Homo sapiens: one gene and its partners. The protein of the gene in region 7 interacts with the protein of the main gene of each other region in a biochemical or structural test. Each region holds a gene or a part of one and is shown on either strand. Other genes may lie near its edges. The genes, in order: NOS1AP, CBY2, SLC6A3, LPAR1, CSPG4, PTPRG and GIPC2.

What was found.
Region 1: the proteins of GIPC2 (region 7) and NOS1AP interact in a test that uses a peptide from one of them, tested with the Homo sapiens proteins (one large-scale study listed by IntAct).
Region 2: the proteins of GIPC2 (region 7) and CBY2 interact in a test that uses a peptide from one of them, tested with the Homo sapiens proteins (one large-scale study listed by IntAct).
Region 3: the proteins of GIPC2 (region 7) and SLC6A3 interact in a test that uses a peptide from one of them, tested with the Homo sapiens proteins (one large-scale study listed by IntAct).
Region 4: the proteins of GIPC2 (region 7) and LPAR1 interact in a test that uses a peptide from one of them, tested with the Homo sapiens proteins (one large-scale study listed by IntAct).
Region 5: the proteins of GIPC2 (region 7) and CSPG4 interact in a test that uses a peptide from one of them, tested with the Homo sapiens proteins (one large-scale study listed by IntAct).
Region 6: the proteins of GIPC2 (region 7) and PTPRG interact in a test that uses a peptide from one of them, tested with the Homo sapiens proteins (one large-scale study listed by IntAct).

The regions. Positions count from the first base shown.
Region 1 is NC_000001.11:162,072,691-162,076,190, reverse strand, and holds part of NOS1AP (carboxyl-terminal PDZ ligand of neuronal nitric oxide synthase protein), read right to left. Parts: intron 1-3,500. UniProt on the Homo sapiens protein: Adapter protein involved in neuronal nitric-oxide (NO) synthesis regulation via its association with nNOS/NOS1. The complex formed with NOS1 and synapsins is necessary for specific NO and synapsin functions at a presynaptic level.
Region 2 is NC_000013.11:45,700,901-45,705,119, reverse strand, and holds the start of CBY2 (protein chibby homolog 2), read right to left. Parts: upstream 2,801-4,219; 5' UTR 2,730-2,800; coding exon 2,655-2,729; exon of another isoform or gene 2,605-2,654; intron 2,346-2,604; coding exon 2,265-2,345; intron 1,610-2,264; coding exon of another isoform or gene 1,529-1,609; intron 1-1,528.
Region 3 is NC_000005.10:1,438,941-1,442,440, forward strand, and holds part of SLC6A3 (sodium-dependent dopamine transporter), read right to left. Parts: intron 2,551-3,500; coding exon 2,419-2,550; intron 1-2,418. UniProt on the Homo sapiens protein: Mediates sodium- and chloride-dependent transport of dopamine. Also mediates sodium- and chloride-dependent transport of norepinephrine (also known as noradrenaline). Regulator of light-dependent retinal hyaloid vessel regression, downstream of OPN5 signaling.
Region 4 is NC_000009.12:110,874,471-110,877,970, forward strand, and holds part of LPAR1 (lysophosphatidic acid receptor 1), read right to left. Parts: intron 1,253-3,500; coding exon 951-1,252; 3' UTR 1-950.
Region 5 is NC_000015.10:75,678,349-75,681,848, forward strand, and holds part of CSPG4 (chondroitin sulfate proteoglycan 4 precursor), read right to left. Parts: intron 1-3,500. UniProt on the Homo sapiens protein: Proteoglycan playing a role in cell proliferation and migration which stimulates endothelial cells motility during microvascular morphogenesis. May also inhibit neurite outgrowth and growth cone collapse during axon regeneration.
Region 6 is NC_000003.12:62,295,340-62,298,109, reverse strand, and holds the end of PTPRG (receptor-type tyrosine-protein phosphatase gamma isoform 1 precursor), read right to left. Parts: 3' UTR 501-2,770; downstream 1-500.
Region 7 is NC_000001.11:78,044,469-78,048,765, reverse strand, and holds the start of GIPC2 (PDZ domain-containing protein GIPC2), read right to left. Parts: upstream 2,801-4,297; 5' UTR 2,672-2,800; coding exon 2,432-2,671; coding exon of another isoform or gene 2,282-2,431; intron 1-2,281.

The DNA of each region.
Region 1 (3,500 bases), about 84 Mb from region 7:
CTAAGAGCATCCTCAAGGCAACAAAGGTATAAAGGGAAGGCAGGTAATTATAGCCAGCGAAAGCATTCTGAAAGTTTGAGTCTTGGGAGTAGCTGCATTATGAGTAGGCAATAGTAAACAGTGAGTCAAGCCTGATTAGTATAGATAACTGGCAAAGGTCATCATTAGATGTGGCTGCATGATTTTGACCACTAAAAAGGACTGGGACATTGTGGGCAAAGGAACTACGACTGAAAGCCATAAAATCATGAAATGTACAGCTAACGTGGAAATAGATTTGTCCATCAAATCCCAAGATACCAGGTGTGGAGGAACATACTGGGACATCTGAGAGCAATGTAAGGACAAATAAAATAGGTGTCATTTCAGAGCAGTACTGTATCTTTGGAACTCACTGCCCCCCACCAAAAAAAAAAGTAGTCTGGGCAGAAGATAAGTGTTTTTAAAAGCATCTGGAAAAGCATAAGAAAGTGAACTACGTCTCCTCCTTAATGATGACATCAGAAAATACATCAGACCCTTAATCTGAATTGCTACTGTTCCAGAACCCTGGAAGACAGGACCCTTAGTCTGGGTGGAGAGAAGGGAGAAAGGGGACATAAACACCCAGTGTATAGTGGAATGGTTCTGAGAGCTCTGTACCATGCCATGCAGGCTCAGACGAGTCAGGGATACCCCATTTACGGTGACCAAATGTCATTCATCTGGAGGCCTTCATGGCCGTATGTTTAAGAGGCATCCACAGATATCCTGCTGAGGTTACTGGAATCTCTAAAATCCACATCAGGGAAACCATCAACCAATGAAGCCAGGTAGCAAGGAAGGAAATATAGCCAGAGAATTCAGCTTCAATCTGACCACATGCTCCCAAGCCACAAAATCACTCAGCAATGATATTTACTGCTTTCAGACTTTCCACAATTGGTCATTTCTTCCACTTGACAATTTTTCATTGTGACTATGTTTGTACCTGATGTTGAGGCTTGGGAGGGGGAGATACACCAAGGCATGAGGCAAGGTCCTCAAAGAACATTCCATATCACCAGAGAAGATATATGCAGAGAGGAAAAAACAGAATTTTGTGTGGTAAACAGCTTCAGCAATATCTCTCATCCCACGTGCAATCTTGCAATGTGAACTTGACATTCCCCCATCAAGAAGTAGGGCTTATGTCTCTTCCCTAATAGCCTGTTTTGACCAACAGGATGTGGCAGAAGTGACCCTATGTAACTCAGAAAGACCCAACCTTAAGAGCTTCTGCTTTCCTGCTTGGAACACCCCCTACTGAAAACCAGCTGCCAAACAAAAGGGCCACCATGCTGTGAGGAAATCCAAGCCAGCCAGTGAAGAGAATAGTCACATGAAGGACGACCAAGGCACAGTCATATGAGTGAAGCCTTCTTGAACATTCCAGCCTAGCTGTGGATGAATGCAGCAAAGTGAGTGATCCAGTCAACGCCATAAGCAACAGAAGAACAGCCCAGCCAAGCCCTGCCTGAATTCCTGAGCCATGATTCATAAGCAAATTAAACAGTTATTGTTTCAAGCTACTGAGTCTTGAGGTCGTTTGTTTTGAAGTGATGGATAACTGAAACCAGTTTGAAGCCAGGGAACCAGGGATAAGTCCTGGTTCTGTTATTATCTGACTATGTGACCTTGGGTCCATGACTTCCCCTCCAAACTTCAATTTCCTCATCTGTACAATGATGGGGTGAGGGGGTTGTACTAGATGAGCCATGGTGCTTTCCAGTTCTGACCATCTGTATCATACACGCAGATATAAGGGAACAATCTAGGCAATGAGTGTTAGGACTACAAAGGGAGCAACTATTAATACTTCAGGTTTGAGTGAGCCTTGGAGGAGGTGAAAGAACCATGGACCTGGAGTCAAAAGCCCTGGAGTGTGAGGATTAAGTGAGGCAGAGGCTAGAATAATGTATGGCACATAGTAAGTGCTCAATAAATATCATTAACTGATACACCAATTTGCAACTCTGGACAAATTAATCTCTCTGATCTCCATTTTTTGGTCTGAAAAATCGAGATAACACTAATGTGCCTGTGCCTGTCTCTATAAGAGGAAAAGTCTTTGTATGTAGAAGTCCAATGCAAATCAAAAATCACCTACAGATATAAGATATAACTATTATTAATACTCTTATTATCCTTTGTACCCATAGCATTAAAAGTCTCTTTCTCACCAAGAGAGGAGAGACAGTCAGTTGATGGCACTGGCCACCAGGAAGACATACTGGGAGATCAGGAGGCAGTTACTAAGGAGCCACAGGCTCTCAGGGCATGTGAGATTTACCCACCCACCAGCATCAGTCAGTAAGCCAGGTACCCACTCTGAACACAGACAACAGGTTTCCCTGGCAAGCAGCTCTCAGCCCAAAGGGAAATCTGGAAACAGCCAAGCATTAAAAGTTTGAGCCGGGCGCAGTGGTTCACGCCTGTAATCCCAACATTTGGGAGGCTGGGGCAGGCAGATCACCTGAAGTCGGGAGTTCGAGGCCAGCCTGACCAAAACGGAGAAAGCCCCATCTCTACAAAAAATACAAAATTAGCTGGGCATGGTGGCGCATGCCTGTTATCCCAGCTACCCAGGAGGCTGAGGCAGGAGAATCACTCGAACCTGGGAGTTGGAGGTTGTGATGAGCTGAGATCATGCCATTGCACTCCAGCCTGGGCAACAAGAGCAAAACTCCATCTCAAAATAAATAAATAAATAAATAAATGTTTGAATAATTTCCTGTACCAGAGTTCTAGAGGCCAGCAACCTGAGAACACTCCACTAGAGAGCTGTGACTCAAACCCGTGGCCAACATAGAGTGAATATTCCATAAAAATTATTGAATGAAAAGGCACTGGATTTGGGAGTCTGAAGTCAAAGCCCCAGGCTTAAATCTTGGCTTTGTCATACACAACTGTGAGCACTAAGGCACGCAACAACCTCCCTGAGCCTATGTCCTCGTTTATAAAATAGACATAAGGAGACCCATCTCCTAGGGAAGTAGTGAGAATTAAATGAGGTACTGCAGGTGAAAAAAATCTGGGATTGCACTTGATAACTAAATGCATGGGTTTTTAAGTGCACAGAACCTCTGCCACCCAGATGCCCTTCGATCCTAACCCCACACCTTTCAATCTCTGCAGAACCCTGAAAATGAGTGGCATACTTCCAAAGGAACACTCAATCCAATGTTGATTCTGAAAAACTGCCAGCCCTTGGGAGAGAAAGAGCTGCACTCATTTTCCAAGGGTACCCGACAAGGCAACAATAATACATTTGCATTTTCCAGCCTGCATTTTTCCAAAACAAGGGAAGACTGCGATGTGGATTTAACCCTGAAATCCCAGTGATTGTGCAGTTGCATAGACACTGCTCTGCAGGGATGTGGAAAACAGCCAGAGAAGGCTCTTACCAGGAGCATGTAGGACAGAAAAGCTCGTGCTTCCACCTCTGCTTAGGTCTTGACTAACATGGTGTTTGAATGTGC
Region 2 (4,219 bases), on a different chromosome or scaffold from region 7:
CCTTAGGGTGATAACATGTAGTGATCACAGGCATTTCCAATGTAATTGAGAAGCCCAAACGCACAGCAGGACTGGCAGCTGGGAGCCAGAGGCAGTCTCTGGAGACAGAGCTGCTGCCACAAGTCCTTTCTGAAACAAATGGAAAGTGGACTCCATCCCAGAATAGAGCAGCTTTTGGCAAATACAAAATAAGAAGCCCAGAGATGAGTGGTTAAGATGCAGGGAGAAGACTCCATCTCCAAAAAGCAAGAGAAGAACCATGGAGCTAAGATGCAGCATGGCCCAGCTTACTGGCATGTGCCCTAGTATAGCGGAGAACATGGGCACTGATTTGAGTTCAAGCCCCTTCCTCGAGCTCTGCCATTACTAGTGGGGTTCCTGGGGTTGCCGGTTCCTGTACCTGTAAAATCTCTACCTCACACTTGCTTGGCCCCATGCCCGACACATGATCGCACCAACATTCAGTCAATATTTCTTCCTCTCCTTGCTTCCCAGATCAACCCTGTCCCCTAAGCCATGTGCCATCTCATTTAGGGAGGTAGAGTGAGCACACTGGTCCCTCTCGCAGGCCTGGTGGTATTTTGGTTCGGATCATCTAGTTGTAGACACCCACACCCATCCCCCAGAGTGCCAGTCTTGAGCATCCTGACAGGTGTCCAAAACCTGGTGCATGGCTTGTGCCCTCTTGGCAGGTGTACGCACGAAGCTGCATCTGCCCTTGTGAGGTACACGTGCCCAGACAGGAGATATCCTCTCATTCTTCACCCACTCTGCCCCACAAGACCCCAGCAGCAGCACCAGGTCCTCCAGCACAGGAAGCAGGCAGCCCCAAGACAAGCTTGAGCTGTCTTAAACCACCTTCTCTTCTCCTTGATCGTTGGGCTGTTTCTGGGAGCTGGGGAGGGAAAGTTGCGGTGGGTGTTGATGGAAACATCATTCCAATTTCTCTATCACATGACCACTACTCTTTCAAATCCTACCCCCTCCTTCACACCCACCCCTAGGTTGGCATCCTCTGCCTGACCAAGTTTCTTAAACACCAACTTTGCTAACATTACCGAGGGTTACTATCAGAGAACATTCAGCCATCTGAGGTACTTTCAAAGCATGTAAAGTTGAGGGGCCCCAGGATTCTGGAAGAAAAGATTGGTTTATATGGGCTATGAGGAATCACAGCAGTAACACCCACTCTTGGGGGAGTAGTGGCTAACACAACTCCCTGCGTATTTCAGGTGGAAAGAATCAGGCCCAAAAAGATTCCTACAGCTTGTTATCTTGTTGAATGATCAGGGGGAAGTTATCTTATATTCTGGCTAAGATTCATGGGCTAAAAGTAACAGAAAAGTGACTGTTCATTACAAAGTTATAAAGATAATGTGAAAATAAACATCCAGGATGTTTTCTTCTTCCATATTTTTGCCTCCCGCTGAACATACTTGCCTAGATTGTTACAATTATATATATGGAATGCCCACCAGTGGTCAATCCTCCTCCTACACATCCCTGGACAGAGCTCTCAGATAGTTACCTCTGCATTGGATTCCTCCATCCTACATTTCAACCCCTCTGGTTGCATGGCCCTGGTCTTCCAATGAGGACTTAGGTGACTCTGGAGAAAGCAAAGCCACCCCTTTGTGACATAGCAGCAGTAGAAACAATTCAATCAAGAGGACTCCACTAAGGAAACAGCTGATTGCAGGCAGGAGGAGACCTGAGACTCTATAGCCTGTGAGGACTTCACCAATTCATTGACTGAAAAAGCATCTATGCCCATGGCCCCTACATCTGTCTTTGATGCATAGCAGGGCTTAATTCTCTTGACAGCTCCAAATAACTCTGTACCCCTTTGTCCACGGATGAGGTTTTCTTCTCATGGATTCATTCTTATGCATTTGATTTCAAGTCCCAGTTCTAATTCTCCCCCAGAAATCCAGAGTGATTGCACAACACTAAGCACCAAAAGATCTCGTTTTGAGAAGGCTGGGTTACTTCAGTGTATCATAGAAACTTGGAATGTTAGGACTGGAAGTTCTTACCAGATCATCTGACCCAGCCACCTCATTCATGGGAAAAAGAACCCAAGGCCCAGAGGGGCTATGTGGCCTTCCCCAGCACACCGCCTGCTGGCACCCAACCCAAACTATAATCTGAAGCCCTGACTATCTCTGCTTATTCTACAACATCTTGCTAGAGTTTTGAAGGAGGAGATGGGGGGTTATTCTGGCTAACACTGATAGGTTACATCCTTCTGTGATTATCCCTACCTGAGGTAGAACCACACTGATTGGAATTTCTAGGCTTTCAGATCTGGTATCTCTTTTTCTTGTATAATTTGGCCTTGAGTGCTGTGGAAACGAGAAAAGAAGAAGATTACTGCTTCCCAGCTCATCCTCTGGGCCTCAATTGCTCGCCTAAAAAACACAGAACTTTCTACTCATTTATTTCTCTCTTGTCAATTATGTACAATTATGAAAGTCTGAGTCTGAAAGAACGTGTAGATGATATCTGGCATGATGGTTTATCAATCTCTGAACAGATATTAAGCTAGATATTATAGTTGATGTAAAAGGCTTTTGAAAGTTTTTGAAGTGGAGATAGCTGTACCTGCTTCCCTGTCTAAGATGATTATTTCTATCTCAAGTAAAAAGCCATACCAATGTGAGTTGCCAGGTATAGGTCCTATGCAGAAGTTGGTCACCAAAACACTCAGAACATTCCAGAGGTGACATCACAAAACAATATGGTGTTTTTCAGGGCTCATGGTTTCTCTCTGAGCATCACAGGTGGGAATGAGGCATCTGACAGGCAGGAAGAGCTTGTGGGTGCTGTGACTACTTGGCTGGTCAGGGTCAGTGTGACACACACAATAGCCCAAACATTAGCCCCCTGTTGGGTCATTCCAGCTGCCATTCGTATTCTCACTGCCAGGCTAAGTTGAGATCCCTATTCTCTCTCCAGAAGTGGCATCTTCTTGGAGTTGGGTCACTCAAGAAGAAAGAAACACAAACTGAACTCTTCCCATACCAAGGGAGAAAGTGTAGTCTGAGGTGTTTTCTGACACTACTCAATTCCTTAATTCTCTGACACCAACTGTGTGCCCTACAATTCAATTTCATCCTGATGCTATCTACCAGAGTTAGTGTTACAGAGCTGAAGCGGCTCACTACCCAATGCAATAGAAGCCAATACTAAAACACTAAGTTCTTTAAAAAAGAAAAACTTGTATATTGAAAGTCAACTCCCAAGGAGACAAGAGTCAAGCTCAAATCTGTCTCTCTGTGCTGACATTAAGGTAGTATTTTTATTAGAAAAGATTCAGGGGGTGGATTCTGAGATTAGTAGGTGATTGGTGGATGGAAATGGGAGGTCTGGAAAGTCCCAAAGAGTAAGAAACCAGTTACTTAATTTTTGAGTTTCAAGATAGCAGATAAGAAAAGAAACTTAAGCCGCTGAAACTCCCTCCACTTGTGAGATCAAGAAAAACCTGGCTGAAACTGGTTGGAACCAAGATGGCTAACTGGAGCTTGCACAGAATAAGCTTGCTGATGTCATAGCCTGAATTTCCACCACGTTTCATACTAACTCTCCCTGAATTTGCCATGCAACTCAGGAGTTAACATGAAGAAATAACTATGCATGCCCAAGGACTTTCCAGACCTCCCTTTTCCTTGCACAAATCACCTACTAATCTCAGAATCCACCCCCTGAACCTTTTCTAATAAAAGTACTGCCTTAATGCCAGCAGAAAGAGACAAATTTGAGCTTGACTCCTGTCTCCTTCAGAGGTGACTTTTAATATAAAGCTTTTCTTTTTTTCAAAAATTTGGTGTCAGTGTTGGCTTCTAGCACATTGGGCAGTGAGCCCCTTTTGCTTGTTAACAAACTAGAACCCCAGGTGAGACGAACAGCCTGTCCAAGGTACTGTTGCCCCTAGTGGTGTGCAGGCCCCCTGCACTGATCCTGAGTGGCCACCTAGACCAGGGTGTCCAGAGGCTCGACTATAGGGTTCCTTCTTCTCCACCATGGCACTTCAGGCTCCCTTGGCACTTCTCTTTTGGGAAAATAAATTGCTTCTGGATTAGACATCTTTCTGGTGAGTACCTTGTTAATATGCCCCTGTACTTTTAATTGTCTTTGAACTCATCATAACGACTGTGGGTTCAAGTCCCACCCTGTGGTTTAGGATTATGGATGAGAGTCCCAACCTTGTCTAGGATTG
Region 3 (3,500 bases), on a different chromosome or scaffold from region 7:
ACACGGACCACGGTGCAAGCTCAGCATCGCTTACGACTGCAGGCTCAGAGGCAGCACTCCTCTCTGAAACACGTCCGTGCCGCTGGCCAGGGCCAGGCAGGACACAGGTAACGCGTGTGTCTTGAACTGTTAGCCTGGGTTCACTGCAACGCCGGATTTGACACGCGCCCCTGTCTGTCTGTAACAACAGGCCTGGGTCTTCCGTTGGCTGCTGCATTCTTCCATTGGGGACCTGATATCAGGGACCTGACGACGGGGACGGAGGCATGTTCTGAGCAATTCTTGTACGGTTTGACTTCTACCTGCAGATCCCGCCAAGGGGTCGTCTGGCACCAGTGCATGCCCAAAGCATCTGTCTCTCACTCTGAAGATGTGTGTGGGGTGGGGGTGGGGGTGGGGGTGGGGAGGGAGGCCTCTTTTTGTAGCTCCATTTCAGTGCAGTCCAGTGAATGTGGAGCCCAGGAAGAAATTACTGAAGTCATAAGATTCACTAAGCAGCCCATTAAGAACGAATGAGTCTCGTGCCTGGGAAGAACCATCACACCTGTCCAGTCTCAGCATTTCCACGGCTGCGAGACTGACTTCTCCTCCTGGAGCCTGACCTCAGCAGCTGTGAAATGCCATCTGTTCCCTCTCCTAAGGGAGGTCAGCGGCTCGCCTCTGAAGGCCCACCCCTGACCCATTGGTAATGCGTCCTGGGGCCGTGCTGGGCTCGGCTGTCTTCTAAACACACAGCTTTTCCAGAACTTCTATGAGTATCCAGAGGCTGACCTTCTAGTAGTCATTTTCTTAATGCCAATTTTCTGAGTGGTGCCTCTGAGTAAATGCCTGAATCCTCCCTGAACCACCAGCCCCTGAGAGGTGGCTTTGGCCCACTGGGCAAGTGTGACCTGCGTGCAGGGATTGGGGAGTCAGAAACGTCTGGGATCAAATCCCACTCTGCTCTGATGGGGACACCAGGGGGAACGACCCCGGCCCTCTGGTCCTCAGCATCTGCATCTCCAACACAGAGACCTAGTGTGTGCCCTTCCCAGGGTCTCATGAAGATGGAGTCAGAAATGCTGGGAGAGGGCTTGGTGCTGGGCAGGCCACCTGCACTCAACACGAGGTGTGTCCATTTCATGGTGCCAGAGCAGGACATCAGCAGCCGGAAAGGTTCAGTGACAACTAGATGGATCAATAGCTAGTAGATAGGTGGATAGGTCGATAGGTGGATGGATGGATTAATCCATACATAGATGAATGGATGGATGGATGGAACAATGGATAACAGATGGATGAATGGATAGATGAATAGATAGAAGATGGATGGATGGATAGATCCATAGATAGATGAATGGATGAATGAATGGATGGATGGATAGATAGATGGATCGATAGGTAGATGGATGGATCAATAGATAATGGATGGATGGATGGATGGATGGATGATAGATCCATAGATAGATGAATGGATGGATGACTGGATGGGTGGATGAATGGATTGATAGGTGGATGGATCAAAAGAAAATAGATGGATGAATGGGTAGATGACAGACGGGTGAATAGATGATTGACAGATAATAGATAGATAGAATTGTGGGATGTGTCCCTCCCCCAAGTTCATCTGTTGAAGTTCTAACCCCGCAAACCTCAGAATGTGACTTTATTTAGAGACAAGGTCTTTACAGAGGTGATCAAGTTAAAGTGAGGTCATTAGGGTGTCCCTAATCCAACAGGACTTCTGGCCTCATAAAAACGGGGAATTTGGTTACAGAGATATGCATAGAAGCAAGAAGTATAAAGAGGCACAGGGAGAAGACAATCTCTGAGACAAGGAGAGAGGCTAGAACAGATGCTTCCTCACAGCCTCAGAAGAAATCAACCCTACAGACACCTTGATCTTGGACTTCCAGCCTCCAGAGCTGTGAGACAATAAACGTGTGCCTTTTAAGCCTCCCAGTTTGTGTCATTTGTTACAGCAGCCACAGGAAACAGATACAGATAGATGATGATGATAGATGGATGGATTAGGTAGATAGGTAGATAGATGGGTGAATGATTGATATAAAGACCAATAATAAAGATAGATAATGGATAGATAGATAACAGATGATTGACGGATGGACCGATGGATGATAGGTAGATGGCAGATCCATAGATAGACATGTGTTTTATCTTAACTACATTTTAGCATCTTGACAAAGTAACACCACAAATGAATTGCAGGACCCTCACCTAGAGCAAGGGAATGAACTATCCAGTCCTTGTCACTGCAGATCTTTAAGGTGGGACCCAAGTTCAAGTGGCGTGTGCCATGCCTGTGTCTTAGCAAAGCAGGGCTGGATGCCCATGATGCGGCTGGCTTGCTTTGAAAGCTCCAGCGTCACCACCATGATCCGCGCTGCGCCAGGGTGAAGGGAGGCACCCGCATATTACCTTTCAGTATGGGGCAGATCTTCCAGACACCAGCGGCCCCTTCCCTGTTGAACTGGCCGAGGGCCAGCTCCATGTAGAAAAGTGGCATCCCAGCAATGACCATGAAGAGCAGGTAGGGGACCAGGAAGGCACCTGTGGGGCAGAAAAGCACCTTTAGTTTGGGGCCTCGGAAGGGCCCATCTCTCCTCGTGGGAGCTTGGGCGGCTACCCCAGTCAACCATCCATGTCCTGGCCCGACCGTTTCACCCCACTCTCCAACGGGAAGTCCCAGGCTAGGGTAGATGAGTCCCGAAGCCCGCCCTCCACTGCTGTCAGTGCCTGACACGTCCCTCCTGGATCCCCTTGTCATTGCGCACCTCGAGCCATGAAGTCAAACCCAAGAGCAGCACAGGGAGGCCCTGCCCATGCTCAGCGGTGCTCTAGGTACTATCCTTCCCCGTGGTGGTTCGGGGTGCCCTTCCCTGGCCTGCGTCCCCCCACTTTGCCCTGATCCTCTTTGCCTCTTGAGTTGTGAATCTGTGACCCCCCAACTCTGCCCCTGAGCTGAGTGGGCCCTGCCGTCCTGTCCCCAGCTTCTGGGGCCCTCAGAGGCTGCCCCTATTGACTGTGGCTGAGGGTCTTTGCTGCCCCAGGTGCTGGGAGCCCCTCCAGGGTAAGGCCTAGTTCCTCTGAAACCTGCACCTCCCCCACCCCCAGCACAAAGCCCAGGGAACCCTGGTCTCAACCTCCTAAATTCCCTCTGCTCCCCTGGTCTGACTGGAGTGAGGGAGAGCTTTGCCACTCTCTCTCCTGGGGAAGGGGAGGGGGAGGCATGGGGCCCCTCAGCTCTGTCTTTGGGCAACTTCCTGTACCTGCTGAGGCCTCTGTCTTCCCCTCTTCAAGATGGGCATAAAAATGCCAGCCTCCTCGCAGGCATCCTGTGAGGCTTCCCCCCAGATTCTTCCCCAGGCCTCCCTTCCCAGACCTAGCATAGAGGCCAATGAGGGAGGCCAGGCAGGGAGGCTGGGAGGCCCAAAGAGGCTCCTGGGAAGGGATCACCAATGTTCTTGGACGTCCCCGGTGGCCCTGCCTCGATCTTCGCT
Region 4 (3,500 bases), on a different chromosome or scaffold from region 7:
TGATATTATCAGTAATCATTTTTGCTTTTTTATACATTTCTGCATTTTTCAAGTTTTCTATGATGAGTATATTATTTTACAAAGACTACGAAAATTTTCCTCTGATATACTGGTAATTAGAATGTACTTGGGTATTTTAAATATATGGGAACAATATTATAGTGCTTCATCTTCTATGACTTTTTTGGAATACATATCACTTTGGTAATAAACTTACATTCCCTGTTTTATACTTGTTACAACATTTTAATTAAACAGTTAATATTGTGATTAGAGCATTGTTTGCTTCATGACCTAAACAAATACTGGCTTTGAAGTCTAGGTTCTATTTCCTAGAAGATTTAACATTAGTATCCTTTTAATCTTTTTAAGTAAGGCATACTGCATACATACATTACATGCATGCTTTCTAAACAAAAGATAATTCCAACTTACAGTTTTCCTATGTAAGGGAAAAAATGGAATTATGGTAGTTTAAAAGCAGTCCATAGTCTCATCCATCACAAACATGCTGATAGGCATAAACGTGTTTATTAAGTGAAACGTATCCTTTAAAAATAAAAAAGGGAAGCCTGTATATAAATGAAGTTGTGGATTCAACTAGCCAGAATTTATTCTGACTTGCACCAAACCACACAAAATCTTTTAAAAGTCTAGTTAGTGTAGTCTAAATGGACACTCCAGAGTCTGTTCTTGAATTCCATTGCAAGAGCTCCAACTTCCTACTTTCAGAAGGGATGGGGATCAAGATGAGGGTTGTCACATAAGCTAATTTTCAATATATATCAAGTCTTGTGGGGTCCAGGAACAAATACTGTCATTGGTTAGTGTTTAAGTACATGAGTTGACTTTTCTCCTCTCTCACACCCCACCTTGCCCTGGCAATTGGGTAGGGGGAGGCTGTTTATCCTCCAAGAGAGGACGGCTGGTTCCTCATCTCAGTTTCCGTTCTAAACCACAGAGTGGTCATTGCTGTGAACTCCAGCCAAGATGGTGTGGTTGAGGGAGGAAGCCGAGCGGTCTGAGCCTTCTGTGGGGCCGGTGGGGTTCTCACTGCGCTGGCAGCAGAGGATCTGCCTAAAGGTGGCGCTCATTTCTTTGTCGCGGTAGGAGTAAATGATGGGGTTCATGGCAGAGTTGAATTCAGCAAGGAGAAGGAAGAATTTCTCATAGGCCAGCACGTCGCACTGTGGACAGCACACGTCTAGAAGTAACAAAACCAATCCAGGAGTCCAGCAGATGATAAAGGCCCCTACAAGGACAAGGATAGGGATCAGAAGGATTTTTAAAAAGAGAATGAAAAAATATTATAAAACATGCGACCATAAAGTGAAATGATTTCAGTTCAATATAAAAATACTGAAGTTGGAAGCCACCATTGTCGCAAATGAAATACTCATTTCCTGAGAAAATCAGAAAAAATTTAACGATAGTCAACTTAAAATTTTATTTTGGACGTTACTAAAATCAAGCAATTATGAGACATTGATGATTATTATTTTGAGCAAAACACAAAGAGTTTGATAAGCAATTGAGATATGAAAAACTGCATTCAGGAAACACTTCACCTCACATAACAACATGGTTTTTAATAGCAGTGTTATTTTCAGGCAAAAGATAAGCACGAATGATAAGTGTCCTTTAATGTTTAATTAAGGCATAGTTTCTGGATTCAGGTTGTCTGGGCCCAAATCTTTGTTTGACATGTAATAAACTGGGTGAACTTAGGCAAACTACTTTCTTTCCTTAATTTTCCCATCTGAAAATGCAGATGATTATATTTACACCTCATAAGGTTTGTTGTATGGATTAAACAAGTGTTAAGGAAATAATCACTCAATCTGTATCTACAATAACAATAATAATTATTACCTGCTGAGTAGCATGGGCCTGTTTGGAAATTGTGATTTTCAATGACAAGATCTATGTTTTATTTTTATTCAACAACTACCCACATAGTGCTGTCCTATATGCTTTACCAGTAATAATTTATTGAATTTTCACAGTAGCCATATGACATAGAAACTAATATCCCCATTGTACAGATGAAGGAACTGAGACCCAGAAAGTTTATATAACTGGCTCAAGGCCACAGTACTGGAAAGCAGAAAAATCCCAGAGTTTCTGTTCTTAGAGGCTGCCTCCAGAGTTCAAGCTCTAGAAAATATTACATTTCTATATCTTGAAAATGATAACATTAAATATTTTAAACCAAATTTACTATTTCAGATGTTCTACTAATTTAGATCAACTTTGTTCTCTTTCTTCCCCCAATTATTCTGAATCATTACAATTTTACTATAACTGTAAGAGGAATGAAAATATAGATGAGATGCTTAATTCTATTTCATTTAGTTTCTGAAATCACTCATCATTTGGATCCCAGGAAAATGGAGGTTGTAAAATAGCATTAAATCCTACCACTGTGTTACTCCAGACTCTGCTGGGGATCTTCTACTGAAAGAACATGAGCCAACAGCGGTGGGCACCACTGTGTCCCATTACACCTCACCTAATGGGCCCCATATGTGTAATCAGGCAGGCTACATATGTGTAATCAGGCAGAGCGGAAGTAGGAGCAACCCCAGAAGGGCATTTGCATCTTCAGATTTAAATGGCGCTGGCTTTGGTGGATGCAGGCTTGGACTGGGGTCATGGATTTGGTCCAGCCTCAAGGAATTAGTTTCACAAAATGTAAACAAATGAGATTTAGTCTCCAAACAGCCCACTTTTGAATCTGAGCTTTCTTTTGTGAAACTTTTCAGCAGGGAAATGAAAATAAAGGAGAAAAGTACCCCCATAAAGCTCTTTGTTCTACAACACAAATGTGTATTGGTTTTAAACTGCTGTTCACTTTGAAGATTGGCCAAGGTACTTCATTTTCTAATAAATACAACACCTTAGACTTTCCTTGGAGAGAAAAAAATATTTCAAATATCAGGAGATAATAGCCAAGGAGCAATTTGAACTTCAATAAAAATGTTAATAAAGCATTCATTCCAAGTCCTTGAATTTCCTTGCTTGAAAATCACTCAGAAAGCTAAACATAAAGGAAAATCAAAGGAATGCCTCTTGGGTTTCAGAAATAATGCATTATTCATTGAGAAGCCAGGAAGGGAATTATTCTCAGGATGGAAAATGCTTGGATGGAAAATGCATGGTCCCATTATGCCATTTACTTGGAAACTAAAAACACACAGTCCCTTCATGAATGGAACAGCATTCTTTCAAGTTTCCTTTCCCCTTCCTTTTATCAAAGCTCTAATTGAGTTCAAATTCAGAACTTGATTAGACACAAGGAACATGCATCTCAATAGCTAGATTTTAAATAAAATGATCTTTTTCTCCTTCTGGGCAACAGAAGGGAATATCTTTATTCTCTCATACTTAAGCTGCTTGACTTTGCTCAAAAGTGAGAGAATTCAAACACTGTCATTTGTTGTTTATAATTTCTTCCCATGTTAAAATTTAAAAGGTGTAAGATCTTTCCAGAAAGAGCC
Region 5 (3,500 bases), on a different chromosome or scaffold from region 7:
TAATTATTATTATTATTATTTTGAGACAGGGTCTTGCTCTGTTGCCCAGACTGGACTGCAGTGGCGTGATCATGGCTCACTGCAGCCTCGACCTCCAGGGCTCAAGCGATCCTCCCACCTCAGCTTCCCAAGTAGCGGGGACTGCAGGCACATGCCACCACACCCAGCTATTTTTTTTTATTGTTTGTTGAGACAGGGTCTCACTATGTTGCCCAGGCTGGTCTTGAACTTCTGGGCTCAAGCGGTCCACTTGCCTCGGCCTCCCAGAGTGCTAGGATTACAGGCAGGAGGCACTGCACCTGGCCAGAAAAAACTATTCTTGACTTCACATTTTCCACCAGCTTCACCCCTGCCCCTTTGCTTCTCTTTGCAGCAAAACTTCAAAAAGCATAGTCCACGCTCTCCCCCAGGCATTCTTGGGTCTCTCTACCCAGGATTTTGCTCCCCCATCGCCACATCTCCTTTTGCCAAGGGCACCAGAGGCCTCCGTGTTGTTGGATCCAGCGGTCGGCTCTCAGCCTCCTCTTAACTGCTCAGTGGCACTGGTGCCGCCAAGCAACCCTTCCTCCAAGAGAGCCACAGGCTCTGGGATACTTCACTCTGGGGTTCCTCCTACCTCACAGACTCTCCTGGCTGGTCCTCCTCTTCTCCCCAACATCTTATGGCCAGGTCTCCAGGCTCTTTTCTGTCTACAGGCACTCTCCATGAGTCCTTATTCAGTCTCCTGGCCTCAAATGCCAGCTGTGCTGAGACCCCCTTATTTGTAGCTCCAGCCTAGCCTGCTCTCCCCTGAACCCCAGACTCATGTTTCCAGCTACCTCTGCCGATATCTAATAGACACCTCAAACTCAACCTGCCCCGGCTGCACTCCCGATCGGCCCCCACCTCCTACAGTCATCCTGCTTCAGAGACTATAGCTCCGTTTTCAAGGGCTCAGGCCACACCCTTGGAACCACCCTTGCATCCTCTCTTTCCCTCAAACCACCGCATCTCTCACCTGGATTATCGTAACAGCTTCCTGTGTCCCAGCTGCAGTCCCCCGCCCATTACATTTTGTTCCTAACACAGCAGCCAGAGTGAGCCTTTTGAAAGGGAAGATTATGGGGCTCTTTGGCTCACATAGTGCAGTGTCTCCCCATCTGACCACTAAGGCCTGGCTGTGACCATATCACCCCTGCGACCTCAACTCCCCTCACCTCCACTCCAGACACACCTGCTGTTCTATGGTGCTGCCTGCAGTTCAACACCAAAGAATATTCTTCGCTCCAGGAAGAAAAACGGTTTTCTCCACCTCCAATCACAATGTGTTCTTTTGGCCTATCTTTTGCTCCCCACCCACCCTTTTTTTTGAGACGGAGTCTTGCTCTGTCGCCCAGGCTGGAATGCAGTGGCACGATCTTGGCTCACTGCAACCTCCACCTCCACCTCCCGGGTTCAAGCGATTCCCCTGCCTCAGCCTCCTGAGTAGCTGGGACTATAAATGCGTGCCACCACGCCCAGCTCATTTTTTGTATTTTAGTAGAGATGGGGTTTCACCATGTTAGCCAGGATAGTTTCGATCTCTTGACCTCGTGATCCACCCGCCTTGGCCTCCCAAAGTGCTGGGATTACAGCTGTGAGCCACCGCGCCCGGCCTTATTTTCCCCTTTTAGGAAACACTGGGAACTATTTTCTTCTCAGAGAAAAACAGGACTTGCCCAATAGTAACATGGAAACTTAACAGGGTCTTAACCTGTGAAGACTCTAGGAGCAGAACCCGGAGTAAGGGGGAGCAGGGGCCGGAGTAAGGGGAGCAGGGCCCCGTCTAAGATGGGGCAGGGCCTGGGCTAAGGGAGAGCAGGGCCGGGCTAAGGGGAGGCAGGGCCCAGTCTGAGGTGGGGGCAGGGCCTGGTCTAAGGGGAGCAGAGCCTGGGCTAAAGGGCAGCTGAGCCCAGTCTGAAGGAGAGCCGAGCTATCTGAATAGGGGCTAGCACCTGTTCTAAAGGAAGTGGCTGCTCCCCTGCTTTCGCTGTAAGAGGGAACACAGGCCTTTTAAGAAAATGGGAATCAAGTTTTTTGTTTAATTTCCCAAAGGTTATATGTTGACAATTAACTTCAAAGTATTAGCTGCTTTTTGTAGGCCAAATAAACACGTCTGTGGGCCAGATCTGGCCCAGGACTAGAGTTGCCAGTGGCAACTTCTGGCCCAGGCTGAATGGTGGGCAGGAAGGAAATGGAGCCCCCAGGAGTGGGAGTGGGAGCTGATGCCTGGGTACGGGAGCTCTGTGGGTGGGAGTGAGACAAAAAACAGGGTCTTGAGCTCTGGGGAGCAAGCAGTGTCCTCCAGTGAAGGAAATCCTGGACTCGCAGGCAGAAGTTTTGCCTCTTACTCGCCATGTGCTCTGAATAAAGTTACCTGCCCTCCACGAGCCTGTTTCCTTATCTGAAAAATGGGGACACCTGACCCCTTCCCTGCCCAGTTTAGTGTTGTGGGACAGGGCTGCTGTCAAGACAATACCCAGTCCTGCCCTCCTCCCAGAGTGGGCCAGGGTAGCCCACGTAGCCTCTTCCCTGCTTTCCTGGGTGGCACTGCCAGCCTGACCCCCTGGTGTCCATTCAGTCTAGTCCTTCATATTTCTGGGGCACGGGGAAGCTCTGAGTAACGTGGGACTATAAAGTGCAAGAGGGTTGCTGATGGCCTGGTCCCGTGCCCTCTCCATTCCTGGGCATTCTTGACAAAGGCTCCCAGCAACTGAGGGTACGCAGCAGCTGCAGACACCAGCCTGACAAATATCTCATTGTGGGGAGGGGGCCATAGCAGGAGTGGGGAGCCAGGGAAATACAGAACCTGGGACTGGGAGGTGTTGATGTGAGAAGCCCAAGAAACTTCATTCCACCTGTCAAAGCCACCTCCTTCCAGATGCCCAAATCTGAGCCACTTGCTGGGCAGGGACTTTGCCTTTGCACTTGCTGAATACCATCTGCACCTCTCAGGAGGGAGAGTGCCAGGCTCAGGAGTCCCTGCCGAGCTAGGAAAGGGGGCTGGGGTGGGCTCTGCCATTTTTTGAAGGCTGGCAGGGGGACCCCTCAGGAGGTACTTGGGGCAGTACCATATGCTGTGGCTCCTGAGTGAGAGTCAGCTCTGCGCCCCACAAGACCACTCCCTACCCAGAATTCACTGTCATCATGTGCTGGGTCCAGATGCCCATGCAGCCTCCTGGCGGGAGCATCACATGTGCCGCCTGCCTGGGATGGCCCATGGAAGAGTCTGCCCCGCTCTGCCCTGCTATGGAACAACTCCTGTTCTGTCTTCAGCGAGTGGTGTTCATTTAAGTGATGACTGGGCTGGCCCCCATGGCACAGTTATCACAGAGAGTCTGCTGCTACCCATGGCTGAGAGCTCTAATTCTTCCTGGTGGTCTCTGAAGCCACCAGGACGGATGAACAGCAGCTTCACCCTCTTGGCTGACTCAGCTGCCTTTCATCAGCTCATCTGCCCCTAGGATCCACTCTGCCTCTGG
Region 6 (2,770 bases), on a different chromosome or scaffold from region 7:
ACAGAATGGTAGGCCAAAGCTGCCAAGTTTGGGACTTGTATACCTGTTTGGAAATGTCAAAAGTTCTTGTTAAGTAGAAGCAATTGTACTGATCTTACACATATAGATTCTCCAGAACTCTTGCCAGGATATATCCTTCATCCTACCTCGTAAATATTAAGAGAGTTGTTACAAACCTAGTTGATACACTAGAGAAAATAGTAATTCTGTTCACAACTTAGCAGCAGAGTCATAAACTGAATAAAGTTTGATTCCTTAGATGAGCAGGTAAAACTGTCATTGTTTACTCTTTAAAGGAGAAAGAACGTTGATAAATCAACCCAGCAAAGACCATTCTTTTTGGTTTGCTGCCTGTGTAAAGACGACTACCAATGTTCATTTTACTACCATGAAAACTTAGACCAGAGGGTTGGTGGGTATTAATGTGATCTGTTAAGGGAGACTAGTAACCTATTTTATTGGATATAGACATTTTCATAGAAATGCTCAACACTACTGAATACATCAAAAACCATACTTTATTTTATGTATAGCAATACAATTTACATATTAAATAACACTATAATAGAATGATTTGATATAGTTTAAACAGAAGAAAAAGGGAAAAATTTCAGGTTACAAAACCCCTCCCCCTGAACAAATTTAAAAAAAAAAAAAAAGCACACTTTTTCCAAATGGGTCAATGTGACGAATGTTTTCAGTGACTAATTATGTCTAATTCCTATTGCACAAATGGTCAATGGAATTAAAAAGAAAACCCAACTTTCACAATCACTGCCTCAAAGAAATAACACATGTTGGATTCTTTTGGAATGTAAAGATGGTTTTTGCTACTTCAATACACAGAAAGTTGAATTCACATATCCACCACAAAAAGGAAAAAAAACTATGACGGAGTTGAAACTAGAAAAAAATTAGCTTTATATGAAAATATAAAATTCTATGATTATATACCATAGATACAAAGTTCCCAGAAGATGCTTACCCAAGCAACAAAATATTTACAGTTTTAATGATTTTTAGCTATTTCAAAATGGAGTGAAAGAAACATGAGTCAATGTGAAGCCAGAATTCTTTAGAAACAATGGCTGCTTGCTAGTTTCAAATGTCCTAACAAAAAAGGAGTCACTACCCCAAATGTTGGAGAGTTGCGACATTTTATAAAATCGACTTTCTCCTTTTCTGGAGATGTTTATTTCTTAAAACTCAAGATATTTTTCTTGAAATTAATTATCCTCTGTAGAAAATGCTTCCCTTTGCAAATATTTAACAAAAATACTAAAAACAGTTTAACAGCTAAGACAAAGTAGAGGCCAAATATCATTATTACAATTCCTTCCTATTTGTAGCATGCCTTCTTCTTTCTAGAGATAAGTAAAGCCAGTATTGTATGTTAAATGACAACTAAGGGAAAGCGCAAAGGGTTAAGTGAAATTACATCTGTTAAAAAAAAAAAAAAAGCAGGCATTTTCCCTTCATATAAAAATTCACTGGCACCATTTGAACATAAACTTTAGAACATAGGAGTTGAAAATGCATTTCCAGTATAACCACTAAATTCTTAAGACAAACTACATTTTGATTCTTAAATTATGATGAGTTGGGTTTTTTTTTTAGTTTTGCTTAGAATTAGTAATATGTATCTTTGGTAAATTGGTATCTATATTTTAATTTTAAATACAGTATATATGCATTTAAGAAAAATTCATAACAAGGCAGTTGTGCTGTGTCATTATAAAATAATTATTTACTGATTTCAGTATGTCACTCTGGGCTAAAAACTCCAACAACCAGAACTTGAACACCGTAACCCTTCTTTGGCCTCGCTGGACTCTTCTACTTGAATAGACTAAAAACTCTAAAGGCATAAAAATTAGGAAGACCAATTAGCTAATCTTACTCTTTTTGAAATTCAGAAATTAACTTTTTTCATATTAAAGAAGATATCTTGGCTATCGCATATAAGAAAGAGTTCTCCTGATGGCAACAGCATGTCTTTTCTTTGATGTCCAGCACAGCCACTTGGTCTGATCATTGCAATTTATTTTTATATGATGTGTGCATTTTGCTTACCTAGAGCTAAATTCATATACACAAACAGCTTATTTTATTAAGTTGCACACATTAATTTGCAATAGCTATTTCCTTTCCCCTGAGTGCAAGTGTTAATAACCTTGTTATGTACTTAAGCAATGTGCTTATGTCTCAAAGAAAACCCTGTCTTTGAAACTCTGCCTCTGGAAAGATGCAAGCTATGTTTTTGCCAATAACACATGAATAATAATAGTGAGGATATGCTGTCTCTTGCAGGGGTGAGGACCTGCTAAATATAACTGTCCTCATTGAAGTGTGTTTGGACTACTTTGGCAAGATGGGCAAGTAGCAATTGCTTATAATTCAGTGGGTCAGGATATGAAGACTTTGGTTCAAGCTCGCTGAAGACACACAGATTGCTCACAGGGAACTTCTAAACTCTTTCTTTTATTGTTTCTATCCTATTTACTAGCTGTTTTTTCGTGATTCTGAAACCACTGTAAGGGACAGCCACAGAATTGCATTGGAGGGTATGCCTTTCTACGAATTGAGCCCTCTATAAATAGCACAGGAGGGAATACTTGCTATTTGTCTTTGAACCAGTGTTTACTTTTATTAAGAAAAAATTACTGAGAAAGGGACCATGAACCCTAACTCGAACATTACTTTTGAACATCAAGCCCACTTTGCCATCTACTAAAAAGTGTTAACTCATATCAATACTCTATACATCTAA
Region 7 (4,297 bases):
GAAAACTTGGGTAACAATATAGCTTCATGGGAGGAAAAAAAAAAGATGGGCACAATGGCTCCGTGTCTGTGTTATTCAAGAGACTGAGGTAGGAGGATCACTTGAGAGTAGGAGTTTCAAACCACACTGAGCAACACAGAAAAACCACATCTCTAAAAAAAAGTTTTTTTAATTAGCCAGATGTGGTGGCACATGCCTGTAGTCCCAGCTACTTGGGAGGGTGAAGCAGGAGGATTGCTTGAGCCTAGGAGTTTGAAGCTATAGTGAGCTATAATCGCACCACTGCAGTCCAGCCTGGGCAACAGAGTGAGACCCCATCTCATTAAAAAAAAAAGAAAAGAAAAACAGAAAACAAAAAAAAAGAATACACTGAATTCAAATCCAGGCTCTGCCACTTGCTATGTGTAATTCTGGAAAAATTCTGAACCTCAAAGTCTGTTTCCTCTCTGTGAAGTGGGGATATTAATAATAATACTTACTTCTTAGGGATTAAGTAGATTGAATAAAATCATGTACCTTGAGCTCAGAATAATGTCATATATAATGATGAGAAGTGTTAATGCAAAATACACATGCTCCTCTACTTACCAAGGTGTTATGTCCCAATAAATCCATTGTGAGTCAAAAATATCATAAGTCAAAAATGCATTTAATACCCCAATAAACCCATAAAGTGGAAAAATCTTAAGTCCAGGAAGTTACATCCTAATAAATCCATGGCGAAGTCAAAAATCTTAAGTCTAACTATCATAAACCCAGGACCATCTGTAACTAAAACTGAAGTCCCTGGTTACAGCAAAGACATTTAAAGTTGTCAGTTAAGTATGCTAACAAGCTCACTAGCTTAGGAATCAGAAGATCCAAGTTTAAATTACAGTCAAGTTTTTTTTTGCTAGGTATGTGACCTTGGCTAAGGGCCAATCACTTTGTACTTCAGTCCTTCATTTAACTGTTAGGTATTAATCATATTAGTTACCATGTATTAAGCCCTAACCATAAACTATGCAATCTGATACGTTTACATACGGACTCCACTCTTCACAATACTCTTCAAGACAAATATTCTAATCTCTATTTTACAGATGGCGAAAACTGAGAGAAGTTAAACTCATTCAAGTCCACACAGCTAGTAAAGGGTAGAACCTGGCTCCATGTCCAAGTTATCGTATTTAACCTGCCACCTGCCTCCCCTAGAGATCAAAGGAAAGTGTCCTGTGAAAGTGTTTTTTGAAAAAAAAAAAATCCTATATAAATGTGAAGTATTATTAGTATCCTATATCAATACAAATAATTCACAGATGGGTTTGCGATTTGCCCCTTAGTGCCTGGGAACTTCGAAAGAACAAAGGGTTACACTTTAAGCTCTCTTTCGTCTCCTCTTGGAATTTTGCCTTGACCTCAATTTCCCTTGAACAGACCTGATAAACAACTAATTAAAGAACTCCAGGTGCCGCTGTAGGCCTCAAAGACAGCTCTCTGCACTCCTCTGAGTCCAGGGCAACAAAATTATATGCTTTTCCTAGAAATGTGGACAAAATATTTTGTTGAGCTAACTTTTCACACCTACCTTTGCAGTTCACTTGGGTTAGCACAAATAAAGTGGTCACATAAACGTTCACATAAACTAGTGCTTTAGGTCATGCCTGTGTCAAACTTAGTTCCAGGCCCCCATGAAATCTAATTAAAGCAAATTTCAGTCCCTTTTTAAGGATACGATGTAAAAGAGCTGATCTTCCTCATGAAAATTTTGTTAACTAGTCCCACGTGATTAAGTATGAATCTCTAGGTTATCCACTCTTGGAATAACAGCCCAGCTTTTTAAACTTCTTGGAAATACCACCAAAGGGTTTCTGGTGCTGATGTTAGAAATGACAGATTGGGGGAAAGTGGGCCTCCGTTTGGTATTACCTGGAAGGCTCTTCAATGTTTTCCCCCCCACTTAATCTGGGTATCACCTGCAAGGCACTTCTATTTTTTTTTTCCCCCGTTAATCTAGGGAGATGACCTGCGTGACTCTCACGCCTGCGGAGGAAACAGGAGAGTAAAGTCCAGATGAAGTGGAGGGTATTAATCTGCCCCGCCAGATCTCGAGTCTGGGAAGGTGCTCACGCCTTGAACGGCCGGCGGAATCCGGGACATCTGGAGCAAACACATTTGCAAGCGGAAGAAAGGTTGCCTCCCTCAACCCGCTTCCCAAAGGCCAGATCTCGGAGCAAGGGGGACTGTGACTTTCTGCGGTCCTGCCAAGTTAAATTTTCCCTTCCAGGGAAGGCACACTCACTTTCCCCCGGGACGCCCCCGGCGGACTCAACACGGCATCGGATTTCGCGCTCCGGGAAACGCCGCTCAACCCTCCTGGGCCCACAGAAATACGCGCGGCGCGGCGCGGCGCGGCGGAGAGGCGGGAGAGCCTGAGCACCTGGCGCCTTACCTCCGACGGCGAGATTTCAAACGCGCCCGCGATCTGGGCGTAGAGCTCCTGGATGCTGGAGAAGCCCTCCACTCGGCCCGTGGCACTACCGTGCGCCAGCTGCGCGTGGAAGACCAGCCTGCGTGCGGGAGCCCGGGACGCTGAGAGGCTCCCGCCGCCCGCGCCCGTCGGCTCGCCCTCCACCAGCCCGGCGGTCTCCTTGGACTTGGCCTTCTTCTTCCCCCGCAGCTTCAGGGGCATCTTGCAGGGCCGAGAGCGCGGGCCCACCTGCGCTGCCGTCCGCCGCCTCCTCCCCCCGGCGCCTCGGACTTTGCGCCCCGGGCCCCGCGCAGGTAAAAGCAGCCTCCAATGGCAGCCGCGCTTCCGCCTGGCTGCGTCGGGTCAGGGCCCCGACCTCCACCCCTGGACCGGAGCAGCCGCCCGCCCGCCCAGCCTCCCCCGGGATGGATCTGGAGAGAAAGAAAGTTACGTAGTCCCTCATCCTATCACCAGGTTTATCCCTACTCCTTGTAAAAAATGGCTCTATTTACGTGAACGCCTGAGGATGCCGACGCTACAGAACAATACGCCTTAGAAGGCAAACACGCTGGCCCTTCTCTGCTTTTCATAAATCTGTAGTAGGCACCCACGCATGATTTGGCCACAGGCCTTCGGGTCCGTACGTCTGGACTTTCGGGGATAGGGATTTAAGTAGAAGTCAACCTTCGTCTGCATTTTCTGCGTCTTACGCTCTGCAGGGCAGAATTGGAAGAGAAAGTCACATAACCTTGAGCTTGGTGCTACGTTGTATTCATAAACCCCCTCAGCCGGGTCCTTGGCACCTCTGAGTTTCCCTTTTGCCTATTTCCTGGGCTGCTTCCTCTCCCAACATTCAGCACGCCTCCAAAGCCATTTGCCCCAGCTCTGCCCTTCTTAGTCTCTACAGAGGACCTTGCCTCATATAGTACAAAGAAAATTGAGGCCATTCGGTGTGAAGTGTGAGTTCCCTCAATTCCCTACCTCGCGTTTATTGCATTGTTTTCAAGTCCAGTCCCCTCCAACTACGCTTTTTACAACAAAGCAAAACAGTCTTGAATTATTAGCTACGAAATTTCCTCACTTCTCTGCTCTTAGAAGCACTGTGATCAGACTTTGCCCCCACACTACTGAAATTTCACTTACTATGCAATTTCAGTGGAGTGAAATCACTATCATATCTTAATTACCAAATACAAGTAATTCTTTTAGGTTTTTATCTTACTTGGTCTGCGTTGCCCATTTCATTCTTCTTAAATTTTGTCCTCTTTTGGCTTCCTTACCTCTCCTCTCCCCGTCCCCACCCTGCTCCTTGCTAACTGCTAGTCTCCAGGAGTTGCATTCACCGACAGTTTTTCCTCGACAAACTTCCCTTCTTACTTAGCTTTGCATGTTCTTCCTGTATGGTCACATCAACATTCTCGGTTTCACAGACGTTGTTGTCTACCAAATGTCTCCAACTCCAGCTTATTCTACCAGAAAGGGAATGTACTGTAGGAAACCCAAATTGAGACTGAACAAAACTGACCTCATCATTTCTCCTGCATCTATCTTTTCTTTTTTTTACTCCTGATTTCAGTTAATAGGATCACCAAGCACTCCCAGACCAGACATTGTGGAGTCGTCGTATCAGGATTTTTCCTCTTCCCTCACCTCTCACATCAATTCAGTCCCGAAAATCCATATTTCTCAACTTAAGGTTAGCAGATGTACTGGGGGAGGAGAGTCTTAAGAATTCTTTAGGAGGCCGGCGCGGTGGCTCACGCCTGTAATCCCAGCACTTTGGGAGGTGGAGGCGGGCGGATCACCTGAGGTCAGGAGTTCGAGATTAGCCTGGCCAACATGGTGAAA